Linked DNA regions of Homo sapiens. The protein of the gene in region 3 purifies or fractionates together with the protein of the main gene of each other region. This does not show direct contact. Each region holds a gene or a part of one and is shown on either strand. Other genes may lie near its edges.

Region 1 (4,208 bases), on a different chromosome or scaffold from region 3:
GTTCAAGACCAGCCTAGGCAACATGGTGAAATCCGATCTCTACACAAAAATACAAAAATTGGCTGGGCGCGGTGGCTCACACCTGTAATCCCAGCACTTTGGGAGGCCAAGGTGGGAGGATCACAATGTCAAGAGATCGAGACCATCCTGGCCAACATGGTGAAACCCCATCTCTACTAAAAATATAAAAATTAGCTGGGCATGGTGGCATGCACCTGTAGTCCCAGCTACTTGGGAGGCTGAGGAAGAAGAATTGCTTGAACCCAGGAGGCGGAGGTTGCAGTGAGCTGAGATCATGCCACTGCTCTCCAGCCTGGTGACAGAGCGAGGCTCCGTCTCAAAAAAAACCCAAAAATTAGCTAGGTGTGGTGGCACTGGCCTGTAGTCCAGCTAATCAGGAGGCCGAGGTGGGAGCCTGCAAGGTCAAGGCACAGTGTGAGATGTGATCATGCCACTGCACTCCAGCCTGGGTGACAGAGTGAGACCCTGTCTCAATTAAAAAAGAAAGAGGCCAAGGTGGGCGGATCACGAGGTCAGGAGATCGAGACCATCTTGGCTAACACGGTGAAACCCCGCCTCTACTAAAAATACAAAAAATTAGCCGGGTGTGGTGGTGGGCACCTGTGGTCCCACTACTCGGGAGGCTGAGGCAGGAGAATCGCTTGAACCCAGGAGGCGGAGCTTGCAGTGAGCCGAGATCGCGCCACTGCACTACAGCCTGGGCAACAAAGCGAGACTCCGTCTCAAAAAAAAAAAAGAAAAAGAAAAAAAAAAAAAGAAAGACGTTGGGCATGGTGGCTCACGCCTGTAATCCCAGCAGTGTGGGAGGCCGAGGCGGGTGGACACTTGAGGTCGGAGTTTGAGACCAGCCTGGCCAATACGGTGAAATCCCATCTCTACAAAAAAAAATACGAAAATCAGCTGGGCGTGGTGGCAGGCGCCTGTAATCCCAGCTACTCAGGAGGCTGAGTCACAAGAATTGCCTGAACCCGGAAGGCAGAGGTCGCAGTGAGCTGGGAGCAAACCACTGTACTCCAGCCTGGGCGATAGGGCGAGACTCCGTCTCAAATAAATAAATAAATGAAAAGGAAAGAAAGGAAAGAAAAGAAAGGAAGGAAAGAAAGGAAAGGAAAGGAAGGAAAGGAAGGAAGGAAGGAAGGAAAGAAGTCCTGACTAAAAAGTTTTGAGAATCCTTCCATTTTTCAAAACCCTCCTCAAATCTTCACCTCCTCCATGTAGGCTTCTGTAATCACTTTGGTTTTCCAAAAGGTTAGAGAAAAAAAGGATTAATGATAGTACTTTCAGCCTGTTTCTAATTGTTTTGCCTTTCAAAACACTGTCCTCCCAATAGAGCGTCTATAAATCCCAGAAGCATTTTTGTTGCACAATGAAAATGGAATTTTATAGTTCTGATGATGTACACTTAAATAAAAATATGACTGTTAAATAGTTTATTACTGAATTAGTTTGTAAGTGAAATTTGTTCTGAGATTAGGATGTATTCTGAATAGAGTCTGTCTCATTTGACATTTTTACCAGCCTCTGCCAATGCTTAACTGAAGGACTTTAACATACAGGGTATATATTCATAATACTAGTCTGTCTACTGATTTCATCCTTTTATGTCTGCTAATCTTGACCTTGTAAACAAGGTCTCAAGGAAAAATACACAAAATAACATGCAGACTTAACCACATTTGCCAACGCAGTATCTCAGATTCTTCCAACAGCTGTACGAGAACTTTTACAAAATTAACTTTTGGTTACTTAATAGCTAATTATTGACCCCTTTTCCTGTTAAGGCCTAGCCTGAAGATCTAATAAGACCTTTTAAATGGGAACAAATATTCTGTGTTAGCATGTAAAGAACAACTATGAAGCTAAAAAAGCTAGACTCCTTTACGACCTTAATTTGTGGAACAAAAAATCCCAATGGAAGCACTCTGCTCTCAAGCAGACCCTCCATAAAGTGGCAGAAAAGTGTTTTCATCCATATAATCAAAGTATCATGAAAAGGACCTGCCTGGAAACCAGAAAGCAAATGTGAAATAAAGGTCTTTAGTTTGCCACTCTATGAAAAAGTTTAAACGTCAAAGCTTAGGCAGATAATGAAATTCATAAGCACTTTACAGTCCGTGGTGCGCACTTGAATTTCAGCGTCGAGGGAGGAGGGTGCGCCTGGGTTTTATCTTTTACTGCTTCAAAAACAAGACATTTCCAAACTGGGATAACCACACTTATCAAATTAAGTAAACAGCTTCCTAAACCAACTTTCTGTCTGGCTAGCTGTGTATTCGGCTGACTCACTTGGCCAGTGAAAAACAAGATCGTGCTTGTTTCCCCTCCAGTATCATCAGGGTGTGTAAGCCAGTCCTGCTCAAATACATGCTACGGTGATACAGAAAGTACGCTGAAGAAATAGAGAGCCCTAACCACTCAAGGTGGCCTTTGGGAGATCCAGCCGCCCTCCGCCCCTCTTTCCGCTCCCTCCATCCCCATCCCGGCACCCCCGCGGCCAGTGCCCCCTTGCCGAGGTCCGCGGGGTCCCGCCCCAGAACTTCCCGAATCGCCCACGAAGCCGCCCTCTCCGAGCTTTCCGAGAGATCCAGCCCGTGTGACCAAGGCTAGTACTCCAGTCTCGTCTGCCACTTACCTTGCTGGGTCCCCAGGCCGCTGCCGTCCCGGGCTCAGGCGATGCCACTCCTACCAGATCCATTCGGGAATGAAGGCAGAGACAAGAACAGAGCAGAGAGGTGGCAGGACGGGCAGCAGGCTCCGCCGAGGAGACAGGCGGGACACGGGCGACTGGCTGCTGATGCCGGAGTGGAGGTGACAGATGGCGGCGACGGCGGCGGCCGCGTCCGGAACTGGATCTCTCCTCTTCCGCCCTCTTCGCTAGGACAGTCGCTTGCAATTGGCCGCACGCCCCTAGCTCCTCCTTAAGGCACCTTTCCCCGCCCCCGGGCGGGCTACTTCCGGCTGCTGACCGCCGGGCTCGGAGAAGCAAGCATCAGCTGGCTGTCGCTTGGGGTCACGTTGCCTGTGTCGGGCAGGGCAGGGCAAGAACTGGGTGTGGCTTCCTTTGGCCCAGGCTCTGCCCTGTCCCCGCACTGCCATCTCCTTCTTTCCTCCTTGGCACCCCAAAAATTGCCGCTGGATCTAAACTAGATTAGACTAGTGGATTGTAAATAAATAAACAAACTAGGCTCTCTCTGTTCATTCATTATTTCCTGGAGCAGTTCTAAACTGGGATGACTTGGGAGACAGAAAACGGCAGGTTTATAGAGGGAAAGGGCCTGGAAAGGACGGTCGGAGTTTGTGGTGGTTGTTGTTGAAGGGCGGGGCGTGGAATGCGGAAAATGTGTAAAATGTGTTACGTAACAGTGAACAAAAATAAGACTGCATAATAAAACTTTTGTTTCTGTATTTTGTAGAGATTCTAATAAAATGACCAGATAAAAGATAACTAAACATTGCATTTCACTTAGTATATCAATGCACTGTTCAAATCTTTCATTAACTTTTTAGTCCTCAAAATTACCGTGAGAGCTAAATTCTGTCATTATCTCTATTTTACTGATATTGAAACTGAGGCACAGAGAGGTAAAGTAATTTAGTTGAGGTCACACAGATAACAAGTGGCAAAGCTAATAAGGGGTGAACCCAGACAATCGGTTTGGGAACTGGACTGGCTGTACATTATATTTTGACTATAAACTATACACTGTCTATATGTTGTATATTCAAACATTCTAGAAATAGGTACTGAATAACTGTTTTCCCTAAATCTCAGTTCCGAGTCAGTATCTCTAACTGTCCATACTTGAGAGCCCTGGGTTACTGATCTTAATGATTTCCATTAGCACACAATCTTTGCCTCCTTTCCATTCCAGGTGAAAACATGTTCTGAATCCTCCAAATACCCCTACTGCAATAAGGCAAACTATAGCCATATGATAGGGTGCAGATGTGTGCTTGGCAAATGTTGCCTATATATGTGAATGTGTGTGGAAATTGTGTTCCTTCCTAGTGTTCAAAGGATTATAATTGGACGATAAATAGTTTAAGAAAAATGGGTGTAACTATTAATAGAAATGGACTTCTCAATTCTGGCTAGGAAAAAATAGGAGAGGGCTGGGCGTGGTGGGTCATGCCTGTAATCCCAGCACTTTGGGAGGCCAAGGTGGGTGGATCACCTGAGGTCAGGA
Region 2 (3,649 bases), on a different chromosome or scaffold from region 3:
CAACATAAACAACTCTTATTTATGCTCGCAACACGGATGCTCAATTACAAAACTGCACACTTCTGAGTTGCAAGACCAGACGATAACCTTGTCTTGCCATCAATATGCGTAACAGACGGGAATTTTACCCCAAACACTTATGTCAGCATCAGGGAAGTAGAGGGGGCAGGATGACAAAACAGATTTGCCTTTGTACTGAGCAGCACAGACCTGGATTTGAATCCTGACTAGGCCACTCATCCTACGTGGCAGATAGCACATTTCTTGACCTCTCTGAGTCTTCAGAATGCCTCCAATTGTAAAATTTGATCCTTTTGTTGTGATAATTAAATTAAGAAAACTCAGTTCAGCCCTTAGTGGTCCATGGTAGGCACTCTGTCTCTATATTTCTTGGATGTAGCAAACACTTTCTCTAAGGGCCCAGAACATTCTCCTGCTTAGCTCTTTGATCTGGACAACACAGCCCAAAGTCCCAGGAAAGGATGGGCAAAAGGGGAGTGAAAAAATGCCTGAAAATGCCACACTTACCAACAGGGGAGATCCAGGAATCACCCAAGGCAACCCCCGCAAAGTTGCACTTGATGGTCCCTCGCTGAATGGCCTGAAAGAGGAAACAAGAAACGTCCTCAGGCCAGGTGCAGTGGCTCACGCAGTAATCCCAACACTTTGGGAAGCTTAGGCAGGAGGATCGCTTGAGCCTAGGAATACAAGACCAGCCTAGGCAATGTAGTGAGACCCCCATCTCTACAAAAAGTTAAAAAATCAGTGGGACATGGTGGTATGTGCCTTATAGTCCCAGATACCCAGGATGCTGAGGTCAGAGGATCACTTGACCCCAGGAGGTCGAGGCTAGCCTGGGCAGCATGGCAAAACCCCATCTCTACAAAAAAATACAAAAATTAGCCAGGCACGGTAGTGCTCGTCTGTAGTCCCAGTTACTCGGGAGGCTGAGGCAGGAGGATACTTGAGCCCAGGAGGCAGAGGCTGGAGTGAGCCATGATCATGCTACTGTACTCCAGCCTCTAGTCTGGGCAACACAGCAAGATCCTGTCTCAAAAAGAAAAAGTCTGAATATTTGAGATGAAAATTTACAGAAATAGAAAGTTGAGAACTACTGATTGAAGAAAGCAGGCTGAAACCAGTATGTATAATATGATCTCATTCAGCTAAACAATTCTATATAAATGTGCACAAAAATATTTAGAAAGCTATATACCCAGATGCTAACTATAGTGATCTCCATCAGGTGGGAAGGTGAAGTTTTCATTTTTAATTTATGCTTGTTACAGTTTCCAATATTCTATAATGTACATATGCTGTTTCTATAAGTTTTTTAAATTAATAAATCTTAAAAAAAACCCTTATTTAAGCTCACTGATATTCAAACATAGGAGATAGAAGGAAATGTGAAAGTCTTTTACTTTGTCTCATTTGTGCCCTCACACTCACCAACTGACTGCAGTTAAGTGTGTCATGTATCCTTCTAACCCTTTTGTTTGCCGTCACAGCATACAAATCTATCTCCACATATGGAAGTGTTTTTGACTTACAAACAAAGTTATCTCATATCGTTCCACAACTAAATACCCAAAGGAGAACTTTCCACACTCAGTATATATAGCTCTCTGTATTCTTTCTTTTTTCTTTCTTGTAGAGACAGGGGTCTCACTATGTTGTCCAGGCTGGTCTCTAACTCCTGATCTCAAGCAATCCTCCTACCTCAGCCTCCCAAAGTGCTAAGATCCATTCTTTTTTTTTTTGAGAAAGAGTCTCGCTCTGTCACCCAGACTAGAGGCGCAATCTCAGCTCACTGCAACCTCTGCTCCCTGGGTTCAAGCAGTTCTCCTGCCTCAGCCTCCCTAGTAGCTGGGATTACAGGCGTGCACTACCATGCCCAGCTAATTTTTGTATTTTTAGTAGAGATGGGGTTTCACCATGTTGGCTAGGCTGCTCTCCAACTCCTAACCTCAAGCGATCTGCCGGCCTCGGCCTCCCAAAGTGCTGGGATTACAGGCATGAGCCACCGCGCCCGCCTGGATCCATTCTTTATGCTGGCTGCAAAGGGTTTCATCTTGGAAAGATATACCTACTTTATTTAAGCAATCCTCTACTGACAGCCAACCAGCTGTTTTCAGTTTATAAACATTATAAACAATGGCATAATAAACATTCTCTGACATATACATATGTATAAGTATTCCCATAGGACAAAATTATTGGGTGAAATGACACATATCTTTAAAAAATTGACATTGTCAAATTGTCCTTTTAAATTTAAATTAATTTGTATTCCCATCAAAAGTGCACGACAGCACTTATTTCCCTGACTTCTTACCAAAACTGGGTGTTATCAGTCTTTTAAATATTTACAAATCTCATGGACTTGGCTTACTAATAAAAGCTGAAGATTTTTCTTATGTCTAAAGGCTGTTTATATTTCTTCTACAAATTGCTTGTCCACATTTTTCTACTAGGACATTGGTTTTGGTTTTTGTTTTCATTTTTTTCCTGAGACACAGTCTTGTTCTGTCACCCAGGCTGGAGTGCAGTGCCATGATCACAGCTCACTGCAGCTTCAACTCCTTGAGCTCAAGCGATCCTCCCACCTCATCCTCCCAGGTAGCTGGGATTACAGCCAGGAGCCACTGTGCCCAGCTTATTATTTTTTTTTTTTTTGTAGAAACAGGGTGTCGCTATGTTGCCCAGGCTGGTCTGGAACTCCTGGTCACAAGCAGTCCTCCTGCCTGGGCTTCCCAAAGTGCTGGGATTATAGGCGTGGGCCACTGCATTCTGTCCTAATTTTTATTTTTATGTTTAGATTTTAATCCATCCAGAATTAATATTTTATACAAGGCAAGAATACAAGTTTTCTATTTTCCAAAGTGATAGGTATTTGTCTCCATTATTTTTATTTTTATGTTTAGATTTTAATCCATCCAGAATTAATATTTTATACAAGGCAGGAATACAAGTTTTCTATTTTCCAAAGTGATAGGTATTTGTCTCCATAACATTTATCGACATTATATCCATGCCCCAATGATTTGAAACGTTATCTTATATTTATATATGATCATATATATTTATATAAAATACAAATATATGATACACATACATATATATGTGTGTGTGTTTCTGGATTCTGTATCCTGTTGCAATTAACCTATTTGTCTATTGCTATGTTAGTACCACATTCTTTTACTCACTCATGCTTTATATCTTGTTCCAGATCTAGCAGGGCAATCTTCATTCTTCTTTTAAAAACTTTTTATGGTTATTACTACAGATTTAATCGTACTCTGCATGTACATGGCCCTATTCAAAGTATATTTAATAGCACGTGAGTACATAAAAGTAACATAATTGATTTTCTGTCCAAAACCATAACAACAAAGTTATTTTCCATTACCTTATAAAGCTCTAGACCAATGCCAGCTGCCATTTTTCCTCCATAGGACTCTGAGAAAATGTAGAATGGAACTGTCTAGCAAGAAAAGGAATTACACAGAATTAACTACCTTGATTGCTTTTTGAGTCACACAAATTAATTTCAAATTTCTATTGCACGTAATGACCAGAAAAAACAAATCTGCTTTGTCTTCCTCCCCCACCACTCCATATCTGATTATTGCGTCTGATTAGAATGCTC
Region 3 (3,649 bases):
GGGCACCAATGAGAGGAAACTGCCTTTGGGACCTCCTTGTCCAATTATGTTTGCAGCCCTAAGGAGATCTGGGCTTGAGTGGGGAGATTGGGACATGATGCTTTGGGGCTAGGTGATGGGGAGAAAGGGTCAGCTATAAGAAAAGAGGCTCCGTTGAGAGAGAGTCATGGGAGAAAGCAGGTTTAGGGGTAGCCCTGACTTGTTTGAGGGGATGGTACAACTGCCCAGAGGGGCCATGTGGGGTCTAGGTTGCCAGCACCCACACTTGGGAGTCGTTGATGCAAGGCTGCTGTGGGGAGGTAGACATCAGTTGTGCAGAAGGTTGGGTTTGAGTGCCAAGGTTCTCTGGTTGGGAGGGAAGGATGGCCAGAGGGGTTCAGGCCAAGGCAGTGGGCTGTGGCACAGGTCAGCTGCTCAGGTGCTGAGGAGATGCTTCTGTGGGGCAGGAGTCAGGGCCCCCTGTCGGTTCCTGACCCCGAGCCTGTATCCACATCTGCACAAGGGCTGCCACTGGCCCTATCTCCTGGGCTGTCCTTAGCTGGACCTGCTTCACCACCCTGCGGCTATGGGCAGGAGAGACTCTGAATCCGCTGCCCCTTCCTCTCCTTCCTCTTTCTAGCTGTCTCAGGGCAGTGGGGCTCAGGAATGGAGGAGGCATGACTCTGCACAACATGGAGCTGCCTAAGGTCTGCCCTCCAGAGGGGCTGAACCTGGGAACCTTCCCTCGGGCAGCATTTTACCCCATTCCAGGGAGTCAGAGAAACCAGCCACACAAGTTGGAGTGTGACCATGACCCTCTGCTTTGGGTCCTCGTGGTTTCTTTTTATAGAGCGGTGGGCCACCTCCAGTGGCCCCAGCTCACTCGGGGCCTGCCGCTCAGCCCTCTGCTAAGGCCAGGCCTCCACATTCTTACCCGGAACCTTCTGTCTAGACAACCAGGGCTGAGATGGGGGTGGAAGGGTGGCAGGAGTCAGGAGCCAGGAGCTGGGGGTCTCTAGAGAATACCACTGAGGCAGAAGGGAGGAGGCCTCAGAGTCTCAGTCCCTTTGAAACCCACCCCTGAGCCCCACGGGGGGGTTGTGTGAGTGAGGGCCGGCTCCTTTAGCAGGGTCCATGCATGAGTCCCACACGTGGGTGTGTGAGGAGCAGGGGTGAACATGGAGGGCTACGAGCCCAGCTGATAGAGAAGGCTCCTCTGAGGGAGCATGCTTGTGAGGGGTTTGGACCAGACGTGGCCCTACTTGAGTCCTGCATCAGTGGGAGGGCCTGGGAGGACTAGGCAGGGGCAGCATCCCCCGTCTCCTAGAGCTGGCTGCAGGAACAGACACACTTTCCAATCTGGTCCTCTGGGACCATCTGGGGCCTCCTCCTGAGTAGGAAAACAGGTGGGCCCTTATGGGTAGCAACCACAGCCCCTGGGGCCACCTATGCCAGGAGACATGGAGCCCTCAGCCCAGGCATCCCTGGCCATCCCAGGTGGAGCAAAGCTACAGAGTGGAAGGGCCTTTCCCCCTGGGGGCATCGGGCTCCCTCTGGGGAAACTTGGCCTGGAGTTGGTGCTCGGGTGTACTCAGGGTGTGTCTGAGATTTGTTGAGAATTCAGACATCGGGTGGGGCTGCTTCACTGTTTTAACTCAGATTTAGCGCCCACCCCGCAGCTTGACCTTTCTTCCCCAGTGGGCTCATGTCTTGCTTTATTTCTCTCTTGGCAGAATGCAGAGCCAGAGCCCCGGAGCCTCTCCCTGGGCGGCCATGTGGGTTTCGACAGCCTCCCCGACCAGCTGGTCAGCAAGTCGGTCACTCAGGGCTTCAGCTTCAACATCCTCTGTGTGGGTGAGTGTCAGGGCCTGGCCTCAGACAGAGGGTGGGTGAGAACCTCCTGGGAGAGGGGGTGCTTCTGGCCCCCTGTTGAGCTGCAAGGGGGCTTCCCAGGCAGAGTGAAACTTTGGGGGTGTCAGGACGAGGATTTGGTTGGTGTCTCTGCCAGAGTCAAGGATAGAGTTAGAGCCAGGGCCTGACACAGCATTGTCATGAAGAGTAAACTGGATCGGGCACATGAAAGTGCTTTGTAAACTGTGGGTGTTTATCACAGAGATTTAGGTTCATTTATTCATTTGTTTGTTCATTTAAAAAACATGTACTCATTTACTGCTTCCCACCCTGTGTCAAGGACGTTATGGTAAACAGCTCTGCCCCTCATCACCATATCCTATGGTAAGTGCTCCAGCACGCATGTGAACAAATAACAGCCCCAAGCAGAGAGGCTCTCGGAGGTTCCCTGGGACTCCCAGAAGGACACAAAGTGCTCTTCTGGTCCCTCTGCAGGTGTCCTTCGGGAAGCAGCCCATCCTGAGTTCCCCCAGCTAAAGCCATGTGGAGCTAGGGCTGTCCGGGGCGCATGGGTTGAGCCACTGGTGGCTTTAGACCCTGGCCCTCTTGGTCCCATGACCACCCTGGTCCCAGGAGGGGTGTTGTGTAGAGCAGGTTATGTGTGAGGTGATTGGGTCTGCAGTGGTGTCTACACAGCTGCCTGGCTCTGTCTCTTCCCTGCTCCCTGAGGAAATACATCACATATCACACACAGCTATGTCTTCTGTCCAAGTTCACCTTTTGGCTCTTCCTTCCACAGGTTATTTCTGAGGCCACAGGAAAAGATAGTTCCTGGGGAATGGGGGTGATGAGGGATGGGGTGGGCGGCCTGCCCCTTTCTCTTATCCAGGGGCCATGGATGCCTGAGCCCTGCCTGGCCTAGCCACCAGTCAAGGACAGCCCATTTCCAGCCTATGACACCCACTTCTTCCCCTCCTGTCCTCACTGCCCAGGGGAGACCGGCATTGGCAAATCCACACTGATGAACACACTCTTCAACACGACCTTCGAGACTGAGGAAGCCAGTCACCATGAGGCATGCGTGCGCCTGCGGCCCCAGACCTATGACCTCCAGGAGAGCAACGTGCAGCTCAAGCTGACCATTGTGGATGCCGTGGGCTTTGGGGATCAGATCAATAAGGATGAGAGGCAAGAGGCGGGAAGGGCGGCCCCACCCAGCCTCCTCCCACCCCACCTACATTGGCCCCTATAACAGTAGCCCAGCCCTCACACTGCAGGGGGCCAGGGAGGGCCTCTTGGGGAATATCTGAGGCTCTGTGGTCACCAACAGACCAGTTACTCCTTTAGGTGTCTGGAGAAGGGGTCAGCTGCCTGTATCCAGTCAGGGATCTCAGGCAGAAGCTGTTCCCAGAAAGAAAAGGCCAGGGGGCAGCCTGGCTTGGCCCCGAGCCCTGAGCCCCCCAAGCCCCAAGCCCCTGATCTCAGCTGGCAGCCTCCTGGGTGATGGAGCTGTCTGTAGTTACAGGCCCATAGTTGACTACATCGATGCGCAGTTTGAAAATTATCTGCAGGAGGAGCTGAAGATCCGCCGCTCGCTCTTCGACTACCATGACACAAGGATCCACGTTTGCCTCTACTTCATCACGCCCACAGGGCACTCCCTGAAGTCTCTAGATCTAGTGACCATGAAGAAACTAGACAGCAAGGTATCCCTGTCCCCACCTGCTGTCACAGGCTCCATAGTCTTCTGCTGCGATGCGATGTGGTGGCTGCCTCATGCCTGAACACCATGGTCCTCAGGGACCTGGTCGGGGGCTTG

The links.
Region 1: the proteins of SEPTIN8 (region 3) and RIOK3 purify together in Homo sapiens (affinity purification with mass spectrometry; one large-scale study listed by BioGRID and IntAct). This does not show direct contact.
Region 2: the proteins of SEPTIN8 (region 3) and SCPEP1 fractionate together in Homo sapiens (co-fractionation; one large-scale study listed by BioGRID). This does not show direct contact.

Annotation. Positions count from the first base shown.
Region 1 is NC_000018.10:23,451,948-23,456,155, reverse strand, and holds the start of RIOK3 (serine/threonine-protein kinase RIO3), read right to left. Parts: upstream 2,870-4,208; 5' UTR 2,717-2,869; coding exon 2,654-2,716; intron 1-2,653.
Region 2 is NC_000017.11:56,988,051-56,991,699, reverse strand, and holds part of SCPEP1 (retinoid-inducible serine carboxypeptidase precursor), read right to left. Parts: intron 3,485-3,649; coding exon 3,410-3,484; intron 602-3,409; coding exon 529-601; intron 1-528. UniProt on the Homo sapiens protein: May be involved in vascular wall and kidney homeostasis.
Region 3 is NC_000005.10:132,763,593-132,767,241, reverse strand, and holds part of SEPTIN8 (septin-8), read left to right. Parts: intron 1-1,712; coding exon 1,713-1,833; intron 1,834-2,822; coding exon 2,823-3,018; intron 3,019-3,349; coding exon 3,350-3,536; intron 3,537-3,649. UniProt on the Homo sapiens protein: Filament-forming cytoskeletal GTPase. May play a role in platelet secretion. Seems to participate in the process of SNARE complex formation in synaptic vesicles.